Regions from separate parts of the Homo sapiens genome. Here regions 1 and 2 are each linked to region 3. The links come from fine-mapping of genetic effects on gene expression. A gene starts in region 3. Each other region holds a variant in brackets. All regions are shown on one strand. Distances are from middle to middle.

What was found. PIP is the estimated chance that this variant, and not a neighbour inherited with it, causes the effect.
Region 1: its variant is fine-mapped to the expression of ZMYM1 in whole blood (TOPMed, PIP 0.93).
Region 2: its variant is fine-mapped to the expression of ZMYM1 in whole blood (INTERVAL, PIP 0.99).

What each region holds. Positions count from the first base shown.
Region 1 is chr1:35,337,688-35,345,871 of GRCh38, reverse strand. The region is part of intron 2 of ZMYM4 (zinc finger MYM-type containing 4); the gene reads right to left. Among named protein-coding and RNA genes, the nearest start is that of ZMYM4-AS1, 24 kb to the left of the region's middle. The variant A/GA (reference allele first, on the strand shown) is at 5,009.
Region 2 is chr1:35,114,783-35,122,966 of GRCh38, reverse strand. ZMYM1 (zinc finger MYM-type containing 1) reads right to left here. Exons shown (of 10, transcript NM_024772.5): 10 at 7,108-8,184. The coding sequence ends at 7,708. It also overlaps the pseudogene EFCAB14P1. Among named protein-coding and RNA genes, the nearest start is that of ZMYM1, 39 kb to the right of the region's middle. RefSeq lists an enhancer at 1,874-1,993. The variant ATTT/T (reference allele first, on the strand shown) is at 4,168.
Region 3 is chr1:35,074,826-35,083,009 of GRCh38, reverse strand. It overlaps ZMYM1 (zinc finger MYM-type containing 1), which reads right to left and starts at 3,625. Exons shown (of 10, transcript NM_024772.5): 1 at 3,568-3,625. RefSeq lists an enhancer at 3,200-3,718.

The sequences.
Region 1 (8,184 bases), 260 kb before region 3:
ACAATGTAAACAGTTAATGCTACTGAACTGTACACTTAAAAATGGTGAAGACGGTAAATTTCATTTTACGTATATTTTACTACAATTAAAGTTTTTAAAGATGTTTTTTAAGAAGTAATGTGGGAGGCTGGGTACAGTGGCTCACGGTTGTAATCCCAGCACTTTGGGAGGCCAAGGCAGGCGGACTGATTGAGCCCAGGAATTCAAGGCCAGCCTGGGCAGCATGGTGAAACCCCATCTCTACAAAACATACAAAAATTAGCCGGTGAAGTGGCATGCACCAGTAATCCTCAGGAAGCTGAGGCCGGAGAATTGCTTGAGCCCGGGAGACGGAGATGGCAGTGAGTCGAGATCGCACCACTGCCCTCTAGAGCCTGGGCAACAGGAGTAAAAACCTGTCTTTAAAAAAAAAAAAGTAATACGGGGAGTGGTGGAGGATACACATTACCAATATCAGGAATGAAATAAGGGACTACAGATTTCATAGAAATTAAAAATAAACTAAGAAAATATTATAAACAACTGGAGGTCCATACAGTTTAAAATATTATTAACTTGATGGCAATACATAAGAATGATTAACAACTTTACAAAAATAAATGACAGTTTAGCTTTGTGATATGCAATACAGTAGCCACGTGACACTTGACTATTTAAACTTAATTCTAATTAAATTACACTTGATCTTAGCCAAGAGGCCCAGAAGCAATAAATTTAGTCAAACTAAAACTTCAGTTCTGCACCCATCACATTTCAAGTGCTCAACAGTCACAGGTGCCAGTGGCTACCATACTTTAACTGTGTACAAGAACATTTCCATGATGATGCAGACTCTGACTGTGCAGATAGAGAAATGGCTCAAAAGGTGAAAATTACCAAAACTGACATGGAAGAAATAGAAAATCTGAATGGCCCCAGGCCCGGATGTCTCCACTAGTGAATTGAGTAAATAAAACACTTAGGAAATAATAACCCATCTTATATGAACTCTTTAAGCAAATATGAGAAAGGAATATTTCCTAATTTTATATGGCCAATATTGCCCTGGGACCAAAACCAGGAAAACACATTACATGAAAAATACATGCCAGTATCTTTCACAAACATAGCTGCTTAAAATATTAGCATAAATACTTAAAATATTGGCAAATTGAATATAGAAACATATAAAACAAATAATATATCATAAGTAAGATTTATCCCATAAATGCAAAGTGAGTTTAATATTTAAAAATTCATCTTCATATTAACACATTAAAGGAAAAAATAACATGATCATCTAAGTAGAGAAAAAGCAACTGACAAAATTTAATACTCATTCATGAAAATATCTTTCAGTAAACTAAAAAGAGAAAAGAAGGTCTTTGATCTGAGAGAGGGCATCTATAAAAAAAAAAATCAACATCTCATGACCTACTTAACAGTTTAAGACTGAATACTTTCCCCCTAAGTTGAAAAAAACAGTTAAAAATCTCTCCTCTCACCACTTCTACTCAATACTGTAATAAACATCCTAGCGGCTGGGCACAGGGGCTTACACCTGTAATCCCAGCACTTAGGGAGGTCGAGGCAGGTGGATCACTTGAGGCCAGGAGTTCAAGATCAGCCTGGCCAACATGGAGAAACCCCATCTCTACTAAAAATATAAAAATCAGTCAGGCATGGTGGCACACGCCTGTAATTCCAGCTACTCAGGAGGCTGAGGCACGAGAATCGCTTGAACCCAGGAGGTAGAGGTTGCAGTGAGCCCAGATAGCGCCACTGCACTCCAGCCTGGGCAACAGAGCAAGAATGTCTCAAAAAAAAAAAAGGAAAAAAGAAATATTCCATGCTTATGAAAAGACTATATATACTTAAGGTGTTAATTTTCCCCCAAATTAATCTAGAGATTTAATGTAACTCCAAAGTCTCTGTGGATTATTCTAGAAATTTACACATTGACTCTAAAATGTATGTGTAACTACAAGAGACATGAAAAGCCAAAACAATTTTTCTGTTTTTTTTTTTTGAGACAGAGTCTCGCTCTGTCGCCCAGGCTGGAGTGCAGTGGCGTGATCTCAGCTCACTGCAACCTCCGCCTCCCGGGTGCAAGCAATTGTCTGCCTCAGCCTCCCGAGTAGCTGGGATTACAGGTGCCCGTCACTGCGCAAAGCTAATTTTTGTATTTTTAGTAGAGATGGGGTTTCACCATGTTGGCCAGGCTGGTCTCGAACTCCTGACCTCAGGCAATCCGCCCGCCTTGGCCTCCCAAAGTGCTGGGATTACAGGTGTCAGCCACTGTGCCCAGCCAAACTTCTGATTTAATATAAAGCTAAATTAACCAAGACAGTGTGATATTGGCCTAAGGATAAACATACGGATTTGTGGAATAGAAAAGTCCAAAAATAGACTCAAAAACATTGGTCAAATGACTTCCCACAAAAGTGCCAAGGTAAATCAATCCAAAAAAAAAATCTTCAATAAATGTTACTGATACAACTGGACATCCATATACAAAAAGATTTATTTTACACTACATACAGAAACTTGAAATGGATCATCAACTTAAGCATAAAAGCTAAGCCTAAACTATAAGGTTTCTAGAAAAAAAGCAAGTACAAATTTTCATGATCTTATGATAGATTTCTTAGAACACAGCATAGACCATAAAAATATAATAATAAAATTGGGCTTCATCAATATTAAAAATTTGTGCTTTTCAAAGAACACCAACAATACAACAAAAGGCAATCCAAAGAACAGATGAATGCATAGATGGATGGATGGATGGATACGGAGAGAGAAATACAGATGTAGACTGATGGAGACAGACACAGAGATAGCCCCATCTGTTTCTATCAGTCTATCTATTGAGACTTGTATCCAAACTAGTATACATGAAGAATCCTGGGCCAGGCTCAGGATTCTCTTGCCTGTAGTCCCAGTAATTTGGGAGGCTGAGGCGGGCAGGTCGCTTGAGGCCTGGAGTTCGCTACCAGCCTGGGCAACATGGTGAAACCCCATCTCTACAAAAAAGTACAAAAAGAAAAAAAAAGTAGCTGGGCGTGGTGGCATGTGCCTATGGTCCCAGCTACTTAGGAGGCTGAGGTGGGAGGATCACCTGAGCCCAGAAAATTGAGGTTGCAGTGAGCCATGATCACACCACTGCACTCCATCCTGGGCAACTGACTGAGACCCTGTCTCAACAACAACAACAACAACAAAAAGGATCCTTACAACTTCATAAAAAGAAGACAAACAAATTTTAAGATGGACAAAAATTCAAACATACACTTCACAAAACAACATTTAGGAAAGGCCAATAAGTACTCTGAAAAATGCTCAACACCATTGGTTACCAGGGAAATGCATTGAGATGCTACTTTCCATCCCCCACAAAACGCTTACAGTTCAAAAGACAGGGACGACTTAAATGAAATGGAGGCCAAGAGCAGTGTAATCCCAGAACTTTGGGAGGCCAAGGCAGGAGGATTGCTTGAACCCAGGAGTTCGAGACCAGCCTAGGCAACAGAGAAAGACCTTCTCTCTACAAAAAATAAAAATAAAAAAAATTGCCAGGAATGGTGGCACATGCCTGTGGTCCCAGCTACGGGGGAGGGTGAGGTGGGAGGCTCACTTAAGCATGAGAGGTGGGGGCTGCAGTGAGCTGAGGTCGCGCCACTGCACTCCTGAAACAGAGCGAGACCCTGTCTAAAAATAACAACAAAAATGAAATGAACAAATGCCTTGAAAAATACAACCTACCAAAAACAGACACAAGATGAAATATAAAATTCTTTAAATGCTGTATCTATTAAAGAAAGTGAATTCAGAATTTTAAACCATCACACCAAGAAATATCTAGGTCCAGATGATTTCAGTGATTAATTGTATAAAAATTTAATGAAGCTATAACTCCAATCTTAACACAAACTCTGTCAGGAAAATATTAGCAAACTGAATCTAGCAATATATAAATATGAATATTATTCAGCCATTCCTCAAGGTAGAATGGGAACATATATTTTTTAATGTAATAAAGCCTAAGCCTATTTGACAGAAACCAACTACAATCAGCCCCCAATGACAAAATACTACAAATTAACTACTTTACTTAGAATCAAGAATTAGTCAAAAGTCACTACTACTTTAATATTTAATGAAGTCCTACAAATTTTAGCAAAACACTAAAATTATATAATGTGAAGAAGCTGGAAAAAAGAAATAAAATAGTTTTAGATGATATGGCTTTATAATGCATAACTACAGATTCAAATTTATTTTAAAAGCCTACTAGATTTAATAAGGGAATTAAGTAACACCCTGACTATTCTTGCAATAAGAATCTAGAAATGAAAAAAGTTTTTCAATATAAAAAATAAAAATTTTTACATTTGTCAAAGTACTAAAGAACAACTGATACAAGAAAAAGCACAATAAATATTACTTGAAAATAAAATGTTAGTGAATGGCATAAAATAAGATCTGTATGCTAAGATTTGGGCTTATTGTTCTTATTGTATGTAAGAACAAATACATAATAAAAATATTGATTCTGCCCAAAAGTAATATATGTACATGTATCATTTTCAATTAGAAGTCCAACAAAATATTTTTGGAAAGTATATAAAATCATGTTAAAATTTAGTGGCTTAATGGAAAGCAAAAATTACAAAAAATAAAACTGAGACAGTGGCTTGACCCAGCAGATAAATGTCTATACCACAAAGCCAATAAATACACAGTAATTTAAAAATACTCCTTCAAATAAATATACAAATAATAAAAATCAATATGGCATCAATATAAAAATAAATATATTAATAGAATGTAATAGAAATTCCAAAATAGATCCCAATATACATAGAACTTTAAATATATCTCAGTGGTGCTAATTCAGTTCAGTGATAAAAAGATTATGGTGGCACAATAGGCTACTCATCTAAGGAATAAAAGTGGACCCCAACCTTGCCCTACATCCAATTAAATAAAACTTAAATGCTAAAATATAAAATAAAGAGCTTGCATG[A/GA]TAATCCTTTATAGCAGGGGTACCCAAACTCCAGGCCACAGACCAGTACCAGTCCATGGCCTGTTAGAAACTGGGCCTCACAGCAGGAGGTCAGCATCCCACAAGCAAGCAAAGCTTCATCTGTATTTACAGCCACTCCCCATTGCTTGAATTACCGCCTGAGCTGTGCCTCCTGTCAGATCAGCAGCAGCATTAAATTCTCATAGGAGAGCAGCATTAAATTCTCATAGGAGCGCAAACCCTATTGTGAACTATGCATGTGAGGGATCTAGGTTGCCTGCCCATTATGAGAATCTAATGTCTGATGATCTGTCACTTATCTCCCATCACTCCCAGATAGGACCATCTAGTTGCAGGAAAACAAGACCAGGGTTCCCACTGATTCTACATTATAATGTGCTGTATAATTATTTTCATTATATATCACAATCTAATAATAACAGAAATAAAGTGCACAATAAATGTAATGTGCTTGAATCATCCCAAAACCATCCTGCCTCTCCCTCTGACGCCTGGGTCCATGGAAAAGCTATCTTCCACAAAACTGGTCCCTGGTGCCAAAACAGGTTGGGGACTGCTACTTTACAGAGTAAATTATAAAATTGTATTCAAAGACATTGAAGATTTAAATAAATACAAAGACATACCAAGTTCATGGATAGAAAGACACAATGCCACTTCTCTCTCAGTTGATCTACACATTCATGATAATTAAATAAAATTCCCAAAAAATTTTTGTTATTTGATTTTGTTCTGTCAGAAACTTCCCAAGATATTTCTAATGTAAACAGGGGCAAGAATAGGCAAAACATTCCTGAAGAAAAATTTTCAGGGATGTGTCCCATCAGATTATTAAGAATTATTACACAGCTCATTCATTAGAACACCTTGGTACTGTCACAGGAATAAACAAACAAACAGTCCAAGAAAACATTAACTGAGAATGTGGGGAAATGCCTACAGATGTAGTTATAGAGAAACTTTGCAGCTTACTGGAGAAAGGAGGTAGTATTTGATAGATGCTGGTGAGTAAGGTAATTTATTAGCCTTATAATAGTAAATAAAATTAGTTCCCTACTCCACACCATATAAAAAATTAGTGTAGGGTAATTCAAAAGCTACACGTGAAAGGCAAAATCAATAAAGATTTTAGGAAATAATATACAGTCATCCCTCCATATCCATGGGGCACTAGTTCCAAGACACCCCTCCCAACCATGCTCAAAACCCACAGATGCTCAAGTCTCTTATATAAAATGGAATAGTATTTGCACATAATCTATACACATCTTCCCATATACTTTAATTCATCTCTAGGTTACTTATAGAACTTAATATTATGGGCTCATGCCTGTAATCCCAGCACTTTGGGAGGCCAAGGCAGGCGGATCACCTGAGGTCAGGAGTTTGAGACCATCCTGGCCAGTGTGGTGAAACCCCATCTCTACTAAAAATACAAAAATCAACTGGGTGTGGTGGCAGGTGCCTATAATCCCAGCTACTCAGGAGGCTGAGGCAGGAGAACTGCTTGAACCCAGGAGGCGGAGGAAGCAGTGAGCAAAGATCGCGCCACTGCACTCCAGCTTGGGTGACAAGAGTGAAACGCCATCTTAAAAAAAAAAAGAATATAATGTTAATGCTATGTAAATAGTTGTTATATTGTATTGTTTAGGGAATAATGACAAGAAAAAGAAGTCTTTATATGTTCAGAACAAATGCAATCATCAATATTTTTTTCCAAATATTTTTGATCCACGATTGGTTGAATCTGCAGATGCAGAACCCATGGATACAGAGGGCAAACTGTAATTGCTCTTCCTGATCTCAGCCCAGGAAATTTTTCCTAAATAAAATGGGGGTTAAAATATAAACCATAAAGGAAAAGACTGATAAATTTATTATCGTTCAACTACATTAAAATCAATTAACTTCTGCATATGCAAAGATTTTATGAAGACATAAGAGATGAATGAGAAGTTTATTCGCACCATCTATAACTGGTAAGTTTATTGTTCAGAACATTTAGAGAATGCCTACAATTCAATAAGAAAAAAACTAATAGCAAGTGGGTAATAGATTTAACGTAACAGGCATTTCACAAAAAAAATTAAAAATACCCAATAAATGTGAAAAATGTTCAACTACTCATTAACAAGGAAATGCAAATTAAAGACAAAATGAAGTTCATGTTATATCCTCCATACTGACAAAGATTAAAAGTCTAATAAATCAAGTGTTGGCCAGATGTGAGGTGACCACAACTTTAATTAACCAGTAACAGAAATGTAAATGGATAAAACTAGTCTTTCCTTGGTATTACTGGGGCTTTGGTTCCAGGACATTCCCCTACCCCACAGATACCAAAACCCGAGCATATTCAAGGCCTACAGTTGGCATGAGACTGCTGATATGAAAAAAAAGTCAGCCCTCTGTATAAGCAGGTTTCACATCCCTCACATACTGCATTTTCTATCCACGCTTGGTTGCAGGATCCACTGATACAGAGGGCCAACTGTATTTACTAAATAAAATCCAAAATCCATGCATAAGTGGACCCGTACAGTTCAAGCCCATGTTGTTCAAGGATCAACTGCACAAAAGAAACTAAGTTTTGCGTTTCTAGCAAAGTTGAGAATGTACACCTGCCTAGGCCTGAGCAATCACCTCCTCAAATATACCCTACAGCAGGGGTAGGTAAACTATGCCTGCATGTCAAATCCAAGAGACCTCCCTTCTGTTTCTGTATAGCCCAAGAGCTAAGAATGATTTTCACATGTTTTAATAGTTTAAAAAACAATCAAAAGAACATTCCCTGACACATGAAAAATTACATTAAATTCAAATTTCAGAGTCCCTAAAGTTTTGTCAGAAACACAATAATCCATTTATGTACTATCTATATTGTTTTTATTTTATTTTATTTTTGAGATGGAGTCTCGCTCTGTCACCCAGGCTGGAGTGCAGTTGTGCAATCCTGGCTCACTGCAACCTCCACCTCCTGAGTTCAAAGGATATTCCTGCCTCAGCCTCCCAAGTAGCTGGAATTGCAGGTGCCTGCCACCACGCCCAGCTGATTTCTGTATTTTTAGTAGAGATGGGGTTTCGCCATGTTAGCCAGGCTGGTCTCCTGACCTCAGGTGATCCACCCGCCTCAGCCTCCCAAAGTGCTGGGATTA
Region 2 (8,184 bases), 40 kb before region 3:
TCTGGACCTGTGCTCGCAGAGAAGTCCTCTGTTATCAGGCTGGCTTCATAAGTCAGTCCCAGAATCTTTGAAGGCATGTTGATGCTGAAATGGAAAGGGTTTCAGTGCAATCTCTTCCAGCTTCATAGATGAAGCCCTAGGACAGAAGTAAACTTTCCTATTTACAGCAGGTCCTTGAATAATGTTTTGTTCAACGTCATTTGGTTATAACATTGAGGAGAAAAAAATCTGACTCCTGGCCGGGCCACTGTCTGTTTGCATGTTCTCCCCATGTTGGCGTGGGTTTTCTCCAGGTACTCCCACATCACAAAACTGTGCATGTTTGGTTAGTTGGCATGCGTAAATGGTCCCAGTCTGAGTGTGAGCGTGTGTATGAGTAAGCCCTGCGATGGGATGGCTTCCTGTCCAGGATTGGTTCCCGCTTTGCACTCTACGCTGCCAGGATAGGCTCTGGCCACTCATGACCCGACCCTGCACTGCTTATTCATTTCCGTGATGTTTATCCAGACTTTGTTCAAACTCATCTCTCCAGATTCAATCTTCTCAAGTTTTTTTTGCTTGCTGAATAGTTCTTCATTAAGTTTGGGGATTTCCTGGAATGAGCTTTTCTGATTAGATTCCATTGTTCGAAATTTTTCCTTGAGGGCATCCAGATCCTCCTTGAGAGCAACCTGCATCCACACCAAGCCAACACAGGCCACAACACAGGCAGAGAGGGTGACAAAACCACAGAGCGGATAGCAGATCTTGCAGCATCGTCAATAGCCTCCCTTGGCAAAGCGAGAGCGATTTCCAACCACACCGAATTCCTCTTCCTCCTTGGAGCTGGACTCAGAGTCTAAGTCAGGAGGCTCAGGGCGAAGCAGGCGGTGACTGCTTGGGCTTCTTTCTCTGGCTGTCCCCAGCCAAACCAATCAATACATTGAGCTCTTTGGGCATTTTCATCTTCTTGTGTGGGGTGAGTGGAGCCCCGACTCCTGAGCTGCCAGGTGCGCACCCGACGCCCAATTCTCTTCCTGCGTTAGAGCTGCCTTCCAGGGTTGGGGATCCTGGGCCAGAGCCCCCTAGTCACTCCGCCAGGGACTGGAGATTGGAGCCCAGAGGAAGCTGGAACTCAGATGGGTGGGGGAAGTCACATAGAAATGGCCAAGGAGCTGATGACCCCAAGGATAAGGGCTGGTGGGCAGAGCGTTAGTAAAGAGGGTGGAAAGGGACCTTTATCTCCCAAAGGGCGAAAAAAGCCAAGTCAAAAATGAAGGATTCTCAGCCCTGATGAGTAGGCAATACTTCTAAGGGTGCTGCTCCAGGAGCTGGGGAAGGGCACACAAAATAGATGTTTTGGACCTCCGGGGCAGAATTTTCAATGGAGAGGGAAGAGAAACTTATTTATTTATTTATTTATTTATTTTTTCTTTGAGACGGAGTCTCGCTCTGTCGCCCAGGCTGGAGTGCAGTGGCACGATCTCCACTCACTGCAAGCTCCGCCTCCCTGGTTCACACCATTCTCCTGCCTCAGCCTCCTGAGTAGCTGGGACTACAGGCGCCTGCCACCACGCCCGGCTAATGTTTTTGTATTTTTAGTAGAGACGGGGTTTCACTGTGTTGGCCAGTATGGTCTCGATCTCCTGACCTCGTGATTCGCCTGCCTCGGCCTCCCAAAGTGCTGGGATTACAGGTGTGAGCCACCGCGCCCGGCCGAGAAACTTATTCTTGAGTGGGAAGAGTGGGGAGGTGCAGAGCAAGAACGTGGGAACGCGTCAGTCCCTTCCTAGCAGAAGAGGTGGCGGCAGGAGGGAGCTCCCAGCAGCTACAACCCCAACACTGCTTGGCCGCGGAGAAAATGCCCAGGCCAGGAAGCCGGCTGGGGTGTGTGATGATCACCGTTCTCTGGCCTCTGTCCTGAAAGTGAAAGGGGCCCGAGGCTGAGAAAGATCCGGAGCCCGGCTCTAAGGGCTCATCCTGAGAGAAGCCAGTCCCGCGCCTACGAGACCTCCGCCCCGCTGTCTGGGCCTGGGGGTCGCCGTGCGGCGGGCTACGGCTGCTCAGCCAACCGATAGCGCTTCCGCCTGGAGTTTGAGGTCTCAGGCAGGGGCAACTCTCAGTCACTCAAACGCGCAGGCCCTACTCTAGCCGCAACTCTGGCCCCTGCTCCGGCTCTGGCCGCGGCTGCTCCCTACACGTTGTTGTTATTGTGGGCGGTGGAGGCCGCGGGCTCCAGACCCAGGCCATCGCTCCGGCCCCATATTTTTAAAAATTTATTTATTGAGACAGTGTCTTACTCTATCATCCAGGCTGGAGTGCAGTGGTACAGTCACAGCTCACTACAGCCTCGACCTCCTGGGCTCAAGCAATCCTCCCACGTTTGCCTTCTAAGTAGCTGGGACTACAGGTGCGAGCCACCACGTCCAGCTTTTTTTATTTTTTGCAGAGACGGGGTCTCACTATGTTGCCCAGGCGCTTTTAGCTTGTTTTGAAACATCATGTTAATTTTCACCTGTTTGGTAGGGATTTACTTTGCTGTTTTCTATGCAATTTTGTATTATATTTCATAATCTTTTTCTGTTGCTTACTTTCACGTGAAATGCATTTTCCTGTACTTATTGGGAGAGACACGACAGAATAGCTTTTCTAGCCTCAAGGCTCATGAAGTTCTATTATTTTCAGAAAGTGACTAAAATAGCCTAATACTTTGAGATGTTTCCTCTGCTTCTCTCTCACTTCTGTCTATACCTTTTCTTTCTTTTACCTCTTATTGTCACTGTCCTGCTCAATTTGGAATCTACAACCTCAGAGGGGTTTTGTTTTGGAATGAAGCTCAAATTTGTTAGTTTCAAGAGTTCATGAGAACCTAGACCACTACATCTTCAGAACTTAGCACCATCCCCACAAACTCACGGGCAAATTGGAGTCTATAGAAACCTTCTGTGTTTTGACTGTTGCTAGAATTTTTTTTTTTTTTTTTGAGATGGGAGTCTCATTGGTTCTGTTGCCCAGGCTGGAGTGCAGTGGCAGGATCTCAGCTCACTCCAACCTTCACCTCCTGGGTTCAAGCGATTCTCCTGCCTCAGCCTCCCAAGTAACTTGGATTACAGGTGCCTGCCACCACCACGCCTGGCTCATTTTTGTATTATTAGTAGAGATGGGGTTTCACCAGTTGGCCTGGCTGGTTTCAAACTCCTGACCTCAGGTGATTCACTGTCTCTGCCTCCCAAACAGTTGGGATTACAGGCGTGAGGTACCACACCTGGTTCCAATTTTTTAAATTTTATTTTTGGCCTACCATGCTTTCCAGTGAAAACATGTTGACTTGAGGGCTCTCCTATTCTTAATGCCATCAGATGTCCCATTGCCTTTCCTCCACGGCTTTCCACACAGATGTCCCAAGCAGATCTTATAGCTGCTTTTGTCACTATCTGATCATATTTTGGGATTGTGGAGATACCTTGTCACAAAGATTAGCAGTAGATGCTGTGCATGGATTTCTGCTTTAACTCTCCTAGTTGCTGTTTTTATGAAGGGATTTGGGGAGATTAACAAAAATGACACAACTATTTCTGACTTTTTTTTTTTTCTGTGACAGAGTCTCACTCTGTTGCCTAGGCTGGAGTGCAGTAGCGCAATCTTGGCTCACTGCAACCTCTGCCTCTCACGTTCAAGCGATTCCCGTCTCAGCCTCCCAAGTAGCTGGGAATACAGGTGTGCACCACCATGCCTGGCTCATTTTTTTGTATTTTTAGTAGAGATGGGGTCTCACCATATTGGTCAGACTGGTCTTGAACTCGTGGCCTCAGGTGATCCACCTGCCTCGGCCTCCCAAAGTATTGGGATTACAGGTGTGAGCCACCATGCCCAGCCATCTATTTTTTAATGGACTTCTGATAATCTTTTATTTAGGAATATTTATAAGTGATAATGGTTGTCTAAGAGGTAGTAGAGCATGGTGATTGACAGCATGGGCTTTGGAGTCAGACTACCTGGGTACAAATCCAGTTTCACCCCTATTAGTTGTGTAATCCATAATGTGTTTTTTTAGTTTCTTCTGTAAAATAATAGGTTGTTATGAGAACTAAATGAAATAATATATGTAAAACACTGAGGGAAGTACTAGGTTACTTAATAGGCTAATAGGCATTCAACCAAGATAGCTGTTATACTTAATGTAAGTTT[ATTT/T]TTTACATTATTGGCTGTATAATAGACTACAAGAATAGAAAACAAACACTTGAAAATGAAAACAAGAACACCAACCTCGATTTTTTTTTTGAGATGGAGTCTTGCTCTGTGGCCCAGGCTGGAGTGCTGTGGTGCGATCCCGGCTCACTGCAAGCTCCGCCTCCCGGGTTCACGCCATTCTCCTGCCTCAGCCTCCCCAGTAGCTGGGACTACAGGCACCCACCACTGCGCCTGGCTAATTTTTTTTAGTAGAGACGGGGTTTCACCATGGTCTCGATCTCCTGACCTCGTGATCCGCCCACCTCGGCCTCCCAAAGTGCTGGGATTACAGGCGTGAGCCACCATGCCTGGCCCAACTTCTTGATTTTATGACAAGATAGAAACTACAACTAAAAACAGCTAGAAAATGATGAAAATGAAAAAACACATGGTTGACCAAGCTGACTTTAGAGGAAAGTTCATAGCCTTAAGCACTTCCATTAAAAGAATGAAAATATATGCAACACACATTCAATACTAGAGTTAACTTCTATTTTCTTTTTTTTTTTTTTTTTTGAGACGGAGTTTCACTCTTGTCGCCCAGGCTGGAGTGCAATGGCACGATCTTGGCTCACTGCAACCTCTGCCTCCTGGGTTCAAGTGATTCTCCTGCCTTAGCCTCCTGAGTAGCTGGAATTACAGGCACCCACCACCACACCTGGCTCATTTTTTTTGTATTTTTAGTAGAGATGGGGTTTCACCATGTTGGCCAGGCTGGTCTTGAATTCTTGACCTTGTGATCCGCCTGCCTTAGCCTCCCAAAGTGTTGGGATTATAGGCGTGAGCTACCGTCCCCAGCCTATTTTCTCTCTTTTTTGAAACGGAGTTTCTCTCTTGTTGCCCAGACTAGAGTGCAATTGCACGATCTCAGCTCACTGCAACCACAGCCTTTGGGGTTCAAGCTATTCTCCCGTCTCAGCCTCCCGAGTAGCTGGTATTACAGGCATGTGCCACCACGCCCGGCTAATTTTATAGTTTTAGTAGAGACGGGGTTTCTCCATGTTAGTCAGGCTGGTCTTGAACTCCCGACCTCAAGTGATCTGCCCGCCTCGGCCTCCCAAAGTACTGTGATTACAAGTGTGAGCCACTGCGCCAGGCCTGTTTTCTCTTTTTTAAGGTGGAAATCAATAAATTAGGGCCGGGCATGGTGGCTTATGCCTGTAATCCCAGCACTTTGGGAGGCCAAGGTGGGTGGATCACCTGAGGTCAGGAGTTCGAGACCAGCCTGGCCAACATGGTGAAACCCCATCTCTACTAAAAATACAAAAAAATGAGCCAGGCGTGGTGGTGGGCACCTGTAATCCCATATACTTGGGAAGCTGAGGCAGGAGAATCACTTGAACCCGCGAGGTGGAGGTTGCAGTGAGCCAATATCACGCCACCGTACACTCCAGCCTGGGCAACAGAGCGAGACTCCGTCTTAAAAAATGAAAGAAAGAAAGTAAAACAGGTATATAGAAGATACTGAGAATATTTTCTACAACTCTAGGCAAATGCATTTGAAAGAAAGCCTCAATGAAATAGATGTTCTCCTAGAAAAAGTACAAGTTATCAAAATTGATGAGAGGGTAAGGGAGAAACAGCTGGAGAAAAGTGCCAGAGAAATAGTCTTTAAAAAAAAAAAAAAGGCCGGGCGCGGTGGCTCACGCCTGTAATCCCAGCACTTTGGGAGGCCGAGGCGGGCGGATCACGAGGTCAGGAGATCGAGACCACGGTGAAACCCCGTCTCTACTAAAAATACAAAAAATTAGCCGGGCACAGTGGCGGGCGCCTGTAGTCCCAGCTACTCGGGAGGCTGAGGCAGGAGAATGGCGTGAACCCGGAAGGCGGAGCTTGCAGTGAGCGGAGATCGCGCCACAGCACTCCCGCCTGGGCGACAGAGCGAGACTCCGTCTCAAAAAAAAAAAAAAAAAAAAAAAAAATTCCAGGCCTAGATATATATACCACTTAATTCTTTCAAATCTTTGAATATCACATTTTCTTTGTTATTTAAACTTTTCTGGCTGGGCGTGGTGGCTTATGCCATAATCCCAGCACTTTGGGAGGCCCAGGTGGGCGTATTACCTGACGTCAGGAGTTCAAGACCAGCCTGGCTAACATGGTGAAACCCCATCTCTACTAAAAATACAAAAATTAGCCAGGCGTGGTGGCGTGCGCCTGTCATCCCAGCTACTTGGGAGGCTGAGGCAGGACAATCACTTGAACCTGGGAGGCGGAGGTTGCAGTGAGCCGAGATCATACCATTGCACTCCAGTCTGGGCAACAAGAGCAAAACTCCATCTCAAAACAAAAACAAAACTTTTTTGAAGTATAAAGAAATAGTCTTTTCTTTGCAGGTTACTTAAATATAGTTATATTTTCATAACATGGCTTAATAATTTATTGTGCCATCCAGCTGAGATGTATAAATCAAAACCACAGCAGTGATTTTAACGTTTAAACAGGACAGTCTACAAAAAAGGAAATACAAATGGCTCAAACAAATAAACAGATACCTAACTTCATTCTTGTTTGTTTTAAAGAGATAAGGTCTCACTCTGTTGCCTAGACTCTGGAGCATAGTGGTGCAATCATGGCTCACTGCAGCCTCAAATTTCTGGGCTTAAGCAATCCTCCTGCCTCAGCCTCCCAAGTAGCTGGGACTTCGGGTGTGCAGTACCACACTTCACTAATTTAAAAAAAAAAAAATTGTAGTGATGAGGTCTTACTATGTTGCCAACCTCATCTTGAACTCGTGGCCTCAAGCGATCTTCCTTCCTGTGTAGGCCCTCAAAGGGCTGAGATTATAGGTGTGAACCACCACGCCCAGTCCCCAACCTTATTCTTAAGTGAATATACAAAATTCTACTGAGATTAAAACGCCATTTTTAAAGTAAGAGATTAGGAAAGATCAAAACATTTGATAACACTTACAAAGATTTAATAGGCACTCTCATGCATTGTGGGTGGGACTGTAAACTGGCACAATCCTTATAGATGGCAACTTGCCAATATCTATCAAAAGTAAAAATGCACATATCTTAACCTAGTAATTCTAACTTTAGATTTCCAGCTTACAGTAAACTCACTCATGTGCAATGTGACCTATATAAAAGGTTATAAAATGAATCATTATTTATAATAGCAAAAGGTTAGGAAAAAAATGTCAGCAGGGACTGCTCAAATATATTATGGTACATTCATACAATAACATCTGCAATTATAGACCAAGAATCAAGAAACTCTTCATGTAACGACATGGGACAATCTCAAAAATATGTTACACAGAGAAGACAAGCTGAAGAACAGTATACACCGTACAATACCACTTAGGAAAAATACCTCTAGAGGGATATTTAAGGAAAAGATAACACTTTTTGGGAAGAGAAAATGAGTTCTAAAGGAGGGAAGGAGACTTCACTGTTTATCGTTCTGTGTCTTTTGAATTTTGAACAATTTTGAAATGAAAACATCCCAATGGAAATACAAGTCTTTTAGGTAAGTTCAAATGAGCATGTATTATATTTCTTTCATCTGACTGATAAACTTTTCCACAATTTCATTGAGTCTTTCAGGCTCCATTAGTTTATTTACCAACTCCTGCTCAACAGCCATTAGGGCTGGGCCAGTAAGCTTCTCTTGTCCCATGGTATTACATAAATATGTCTTAAGACGAGGCAGGGTAGAAAATGAGTTCTCAGTACTTGCTGAAGTAATTGGCCAAGACAAAGCAATATATAATAGCTTTGAGAGACAAGGAATATTACTGTGAAGACCATGCTGAATAAACAAACAGCCGAGACTGACGAAGTTTATGCAACTATCATCTATGACAAAGTTAAGCTTTGCATAATGTCGATAAAATCTAAGTTCTGGGATAATGTCCTCATCAAGTTTATAAAATTCCTGAACATGTTTTGCTGTTGTTTCATTTAATGGTTCATTCCATTTAAATAACAGTTCTGAAATTTGCTTTATTTTGCAATAATCAAACTC
Region 3 (8,184 bases):
GCTACAGGAAATTCTTTTTTTATTTTTGGAGACAGAGTTTTACTCTTGCTGCCCAGGCTGGAGTGCAATGGCACAATCTCAGGTCACTGCAACCTCCACCTCCCGGGTTCAAGTGATTCTCCTGCCTCAGCCTCCTGAGTAGCTAGGATTACAGGCATGCACTACCACTCCTGGCTAATTTTTTGTATTATTAGTAGAGACGGGGTTTCACCATGTTGGCCAGGCTGGTCTGGAACTCCTGACCCCAGGTGATCCACCCGCCTCAGCCTTCCAAAGTGCTGGGATTACAGGGGTGAGCCACCACGCCCGGCCACTAAAGGAAATTCTTTAAGCTAAAGTAAAATAGTAGATGGGAATTTAGCATAAAAGTTGGAAAGCAGGCCAGGCGTGGTGGCTCACGCCTGTAATCCCAACACTTTAGGAGGCTGAGGCAGGCGGATCACTTGAGGTCAGGAGTTCGTGACCAGCCTGGCCAACATGGTGAAACCCCATCTCTACCAAAAATACAAAAATTAGCTGGGTATGGTGGTGCACGCCTGTAATCCCAGCTACTCGGGAAGCTGAGGCAGGAGAACTGCATGAACCCAGGAGGTGGAGGTTGCAGTGAGCCCAGATCATGCCACTGCACTCCAGCCTGGGTGACAGCGCATGACTCCATTTAAAAAAAAAAAAAAGTTGGAAAGGAAGAAAACTTTTTATTTGTAGACATGACTGCATATAGAAAACTCTAAGGAACCTCCCCCAACTCACCCCCCGCAAAAGAAACTATTAGAATAAGTGAATTCAGCAGAATTATAGGATAATACAAGATCCGCATTTTAGAATTTTTCTTATCACTTATCTTCAACATTGTAGTAGAAGTTCTAGTTAGATCAATAAAGCAAGAAAAAATAAAAGACAAACTTTGAAAAGGCAGTTAAAATTGTTATTATTCATGGATGACATGATTCTATACAAAGAAAATTCAAAAGAATCTCCAAGTTATTAAGCTTAGCAAGACATTCGAAAATAAATTTTGGCCAGGTGCAGTGGCTCACGCCTGTCATCCTAGCAATTTGGGAGGCAGAGATGGGTGAATTACCTGAGGTCAGGAGTTCAAGACCAGCCTAACATGGTGAAACCCGTATCTACTAAAAATACAAAAGAATTAGCTGGGCATGGTGGTGGGCACCTGTAATCCCAGCTACTCAGGAGGCTGAAACAGGAGAATCACTTGAACCTGGGTGTCAGAGGCTACAGTGAGCCGAGATTGTGCCACTGCATTCCAGCCTGGGTGACACAGTGCGACTCCGTCTCAAACAAACAAACAAAAAATCAATTTTATTTCTTTATACTAGAACAGAAAAATATAAAAATAACCATTTTCTGCAGCATCATAAATATCAAATATAGGAATAAATCTAATGAAAGCTATTAAAGAACTCTACAGTGAAAACAAAACATTGCTGAGAGAAATTAAGGAAGATCTAAATAAATGCTCATTGATGGAAAGAGTCAATATTAATTTTTCTCCTAATTAAGCTGTAGATGAAAATCCCAGCAGGGGTTTTTGTGGAATTTGTAAGGTAATTCTAATGTATATACAATGTGCATACAGAGCCTAGCATAACCAAGACAATATCAAAAAAAAAAAATGTTGGAAGGGCTTATAAAGCTACAGTAAATTAAGATAGTGTGGTATGGACACAAGCAAAAACAAAACAGAGTCTGGAAGCAGATATACTCCTATCCCTTATTTCTTCGCATTATACCACTTCTTTATACATTACACTTTGCTAAGATTTATTTTATTCGGCCGGGCACGGTGGCTCCTGTCTGCAATCCCAGCACTTTGAGAGGGTGGATCAGCTGAGGTCGGAGTTCTAGACCAGCCTGGCCAACATGGTGAAACCCTGTCTCTACTAAACAAAAATTAGCCAGGTGTGGTGTAATCCCAGCTACTTGGGAGGCTGAGGCAGGAGAATCACTTGAACTGGAGGTGGAGGTTGCAGTGAGCTGAGATCGCGCTACTGCACTCCAGTCTGGGAGACAAGAGTGAAATGCTGTCTCAAAAAAAAAAAATTATTTTATTCAACTGAGTTCTGCAAGGTCTTTTACTAGCCTGATGGGAAGGCTGGAGGCAGAAGGCTATATGTTTTTCAAACCAAACTAAAATGTCCATGGTTAATTCTGCAGGCAATGAAGAGCCATCATTTCCGAAGTGCCTTGGTACCGGGTTACACTGATGAGTAGGATGTCCCAACCAGTAAGTATATACAAGGTACTGAGAAGAAATGAAAAAAGAAGACGGTCAGTCTTCTGGGAGGTGAAATTTGAGCTGGGTTTTAAAGTGTCTACCAACCAATGATGGCGGATATTCCTGGTATAGAGACAGCATGTACAAAACCACAAATAGCCGGGCACAGTGGCTCAAGCCTGTAATCCCAGCACTTTGAGAGGCCCAAGCAGGTGGATTGCTTCGATTCAGGAGTTCGAGACCAGCCTAGGCAACATGAAGATAACCTGTCTCTACAAAAAATACAAAAATTAGCTGGGCGTAGTGGGGAGCACCTGTTGTTCCAGCTACTCTGGAACCTGAGGTGGGAGGATCGCTTAAGCTCGGAAGGCTGAGGCTGCTTGTGAGCCGTGATCGTGTCACTGCACTCAGCCTGGGCCAAAGAGCGAGACCCAGTCTCCAAAAAAAAAAAAAAAAAAAGAAGCACAAATATATGGGAACTAGAAGGAGTGGGACTGTTGTTGCAGATAAAGTACAAGTGCAAGAGTGCTAGTAGAAGGAACTGGAAAGTTTGAAAAGTAGACATGGGTCATGTCAGGAAGGTCCCTGATACCAAATACCTTAAAATTAATCTTGTAAATCAGCAGCGTTCAAACTGTGCTTTTGGGGTTCAGCAAACATTTCATTTTTTTTTTTGAGACGGGGTCTCGCTCTGGAGTGCAGTGGCACGATCTCGACTAAATGCAACCTCTGCCTCCCGGTTCAAGCGATTCTCCTGCCTCAGCCTCCTGAGTAGCTGAGATTACAGGCGCCTGCCACCAAGCCCAGCTAATTTTTGTACTTTTAGTAGAGACGGGGTTTTGCCATGTTGGCCAGGCTGGTCTCGAACTTCTGACCTCAAGAGATCCGCCCGCCTGGGCCTCCCAAAGTGTCGGGATTACAGGCTTGAGGCACCACGCCCGGCCAGGAGTCAAACTTTTGAAAAATCACTGCTCAATGAAGGAGAGATACAGGTGTGATGGGGCTTCTGAAACGGAGGCTGCGGAGCGAGACTAAAGTCTGAAGGCCCAGTTACTACACAGGAGCAGGAGGCGGCGAGAATCGCTGGAAGCGGGGAGCACTAACCCCCCCAGTCTATGAGGGCAAGGTTAAAGGAGGCGGCAAACACAATCCACGTCAGGGCCTGGCCCGGAGTTCCCGACCCCCATCTGGCGGAATCCGCACTCAAAGCTCCGTCTCTAAAACCCCGACCCGGCGCGTCATCCTCCCTCCGACCGACAGCAGAAACCCTGCCCCTTTCGAGTAAGGCGCAGGAGTAAAGACCGAAACCAGAGCCGCATGAGGAGGCTTACTAATTTCTCTCAGGGACGCCCCGCCCAACGCTTCTGAAACAATCTTCGAAGCGAAACGGCCCCGCCGACCCCGCCCCTCTCCCGTCGTGCTCTGCGGTTGAGCATGCGCAGGGCCGCTGGCTCAGGGTGGTCCCAGCTCCCTGAATTGGGAAGAGCGACTTTGGGATAGAAGAAGTGGGAGAGGGGGAGGGGAAGAGTCCTTACGGCCCGCATAGGATCTTACCCTTGAAGTCGTCGCTGGCTGGCAGCCAAAGTAGGACCCTTGACTCAGAGCTCAGGCAGGGCAGTTAGATTTCCTGGATTTGAGAGATGGCTTTACTACTTATTAGCTGTGTGCTAGTAAGCGATTTGACAACTTCTATAAATCTCCATTTCTTCGACCTTGAAATGGGGATAATTGTAGTGGCTGCATCGTAGGTTTGTAAACATTAGGCAGGCTTCTGCAGAAGCTGGACTCAAAAAAAAAAAATATGACAGGCAATGTTAGCAAAGTGCCAGTTGCAGAGTAAATTCCTAGTAAAAGGAAATTATCCTCAGAGGTAGGGAGGGAGTTCAGACTTCTTTCATTAGTACGTTAAAATTAAAATGACCCCAGGCTGGGTGTGGTGGGTCACACCTATAATTCCAGCACTTTGGGAGGCCGAGGCGGGTGGACTGCTTGAGTTCAGGAATTCAAGACCATCCTGACCAACATGGTGAAACCCCGTCTCTATTAAAAATACAGAAATTAGCCGGGCATGGAGGCGGGCGCCTGTAATCCCAGCTACTTGGGAGTCTGAGGCAGGAGAATCGCTTGAAGCCAGGAGGCAGAGGTTGCAGTGAGCTGAGATTGTACCACTGCACTTCAGCCTGAGCGACAGAGAGAGACTGCGTCTCAAAAAAAAAAAAAAAAAAAAAAAAAAAAATTAAAATAACCCCAAACTGCATGTCAAAAATAATGGCATATTTTAAATGTTTTTTGACAATACTTTCAACACCTAAAAAAGTATAGGACGAACTAACTGTGCTATTCCTAAAGGCATAAGAGGATTCTAAAATATATATATAAGGTTGAATGATGAACTTATTATAATCATATTTGACAATTACTTTTAAAGGAGATATTCTCAAAAATCTAAATTTGAGGCCCTTGTGAAGGTGAGGTCCAGACCAAAAGGGCCTCCTAATCCTTGCTGCTATGGTCCTTAAATATCCTTTGGAATTAGCCTCAAATCTAATATAAACCCTTTGGTAATTTGAAATATTATACGAGTAACTGAAGTTAATTTCTCCAACATTTATTATTACCTTCTAATATTCATAATAATCTGTTTAGACTGTTAGGATTAGAAAGGACCTTACTGAAATGATCTCTCCTCTAATGCTCCCTTCCTACCAAAGGAAAAGCTGAAGGCAAGAGGATAAAGGTAATTTGCCCCAAGTTACACAGCAACTCAGTGACTGGGATTAGATTGGAACCCAGAAATGAGTCCTGGTTCAGTGGGCATCCAAAGGCAAGTGATGTCATTGTAAATGCCCCGTGGGTTCACCTTGCCCGCTACCTAAACACAGTCCATTTATCAAGACGGGGAATTGCAATAGAGAAAGAGTAATTCACGCAGAGCCAGCTGTGCGGGAGACTGAAATTTTATTATTATTTAAATCAGTCTCCTCGAGCATTTGGGAATCAGAGTTTTTAAGGACAACTGGTGGGTGGGGGGAAGCCAGTGAGCCAGAAGCGCTGATTGGTTAGGTAGGAGATGAAATAATGGGAAGTTGAAGCTGTCTGTCCTCATGCGCTGAGTTAGTTCCCTGGTGGGGGCCACAAGATCAGATGAGCCTGTTTATCTATCTGGGTGGTACCAGCTGATCCATCAAGTGCAGGGTCTGCAAAATATCTCAAGCACTGGTCTCAGGAGCAGTTTAGGGAGGGTCAGAATCTTGGCCTCCAGCTGCATGACTCCTAAACCATAATTTCTAATCTTGTGGCTAATTTGTTAATCTTATAAAGGCAGTCTAGTCCCCAGGCAAGGAGGAGGTTTGTTTTGGGAAAGGGCTGTTATTGTCTTTGTTTTAAACTATAAACTAAATTCCTCCCAAAGTTAGTTTAGCCTATGCCCAGGAAGGAACAAGGACAGTTTAAAGTTAGAACCAAGATGGAGTCCATTAGGTTAGATCTCCTTCATGGTCTCAGTCATAATCTTGCAATGGTGGTTTCATCGTCATTACTAACTTCCTTGGGAGTTGAGTTGAAAAAATGGTAGGATTCATGATATCATAAAAAATTGTAAGGATGTGTGATAATTTTGAGATGTGATATTCCAACCACCCCCAGTGATAGATCTGAAAATTTGGCCCAATATTTCAAGCAGTAGATGTAGGTCACAAGTTTCATGCGTCTTTCTTGCCCTGAAGTCTCAATAGTTTATACTGGCTGAAAGATTAAGTCCTAAGGAATAGGAGGAGAGCTCTGGGAGATAGGAAGCTTGATTCATTCTTTTTCTTTTCTTTTCTTTTTTTTTTTTTTTGAGACAGAGTTTTGCTCTTGTCACCCTGGCTGGAGTGCAATGGCGTGATCTTGGTGGCTCACTGCAACCTCTGCCTCCTGGGTTCAAGCGATTCTCCTGCTGCAGCCTCTCAAGTAGCTGGGACTACCGGAGTGCCCCATCATGCCCAGCTAATTTTGTATTTTTAGTAGAGATGGGGTTTCGCCATGTTGGCCAGTCCAGTCTTGAACTCCTGACCTCAAGTGATCTGCCCACCTCAGCCTCCCTGGGTGCTGTGATTACAGGCGTGAGTCAACGTGCCTGGCTGATTCATTTGTTTTCCTTTCTTTTTTTTTTGAGATGGAGCTTCGCTCTTGTTGCCAGGCTGGAGTGCAATGGCGCAATCTTGGCTCACCGCAACCTTCACCTCCTTGGTTCAAGTGATTATCCTGCCTCAGCCTCCTGAGTAGTTGGGATTACAGGCATGCGCCACCATGCCCAGCTAATTTTGTATTTTTAGTAGAGATGGGGTTTCTCCATGTTGGTCAGGCTGGCCTTGAACTCCTGACCTCAAGTGATCCGCTCACCTCAGCCTCCCAAAGTGCTGGGATTACAGGTGTGAGCCACCACATCCGGCCAGAAATTGAACCTTTTTTTACTGGGGGCATATGGGTAAAATCAATTTGCCAGTCCTGTCCTGGAAGGTGTCCCCTGGCTTGACAGGTTGGGAAAGAAGGGGGTCTAGTGTTGCAGTGGGGTGAAGTTTTCTGGCAAATAGAGCGTTGATGGGGAATGGCTTTTAACTGTTCCTTTATATCTGGGGTTATGTGTATATGGGAACTTAAGAAATGTAGAGGGCAATGGCTAGTGTGGAAGAGGTTGTGAATGTCCTGTGAAAGAGTTGCTTTTTCAGGGTCAGGTAGGACTAATTTGTTTTGTATGAACCAGTATGGGGGTTTGAATTGTGCCCTTGCCATGATTAGTTGTTGTATTTGGTGTTCTGGATAAAAGGAGGGGATATGTTGTATGAGGGGAAATAGGTATTGGGGAATTGGGTGATTGGTTGAGCACAATAGTCAGCCTCACAGTTCCCTAAAGAAATGTAGCTTTTATCTGATTGATGTCTTTGCAATGAATAACTGCAACCTTTCCTGGAAGTAAAGCTGCCTTTAGTAGATGATGGATTGGTTTTCCATTAATGATAGTTGTTCCCTTAACCATGAGATAGCCCCACTTGCTCCACATTTGGGCATTGGAATGGTTGATGTTATAGGCATATTTGGAATTGGTGTATATATTAACTTGTGTGGTTTTTGCTAGGGTTAATGCTCTTATTAGGGCAATTAATTTCTGCTTTTTGGTAGGATGTGCCCAAAGGCAAGGGGGCAGCCTCTACAACTCTTCTAGGTGGGAGAGAGTGGGTATCATCATGATATCCCTCAGTAATGGCATATCCTCTTGGAGGGGAGGGTTTTTTGATGGCTGCCATCTATAAACCAATCCGGGGCTTCCTTTATGTGAGTGGAAGTAAGGCAGGAGAATCACTTGAACCCAGGAGGCAGAGGTTGCAATGAGCTGAGATTGTGCCATTGCACTCCATCCTGGGCAATAAGAGTGAAACTCTGACTCAAAAAAAACAAAAAACAACAAAAAAGCAAGACCCAACATATTGCTGCCTACAAGAGACTCACCTCACCATTAAAGACAAACACAAGCAAAGTGAAAGGATGGAAAAAGATTTTCTATGCAAACAGAAACCAAAAGTAAGCAGGAGTAGCCACACTTATATCAGATAAAATAGAACTTAAGTCAAAAACTGTAAAAAGAGACAAGGTCATTATGTATGACAAGGGGGTCAATTTAACAAGAGGATATAACAATTATAAATATATATGTGCTACCATCCTGGCTAACACAGTGAAACCCCATCTCTACTAAAAATACAAAAAATTAGCTGGGCGCAGTGACGGGCGCCTGTAGTCCCAGCTACTCAGGAGGCTGAGGCAGGAGAATGGCGTAAACCCAGGAGGCAGAGCTTGCAGTGAGCCGAGATCGCGCCACTGCACTCCAGCCTGGGCGATGGAGGGAGACACTGTCTCAAAAAAATTAAAAAAAAAAAAAATATATATGTGTCCAACACCAGAGCACCCCA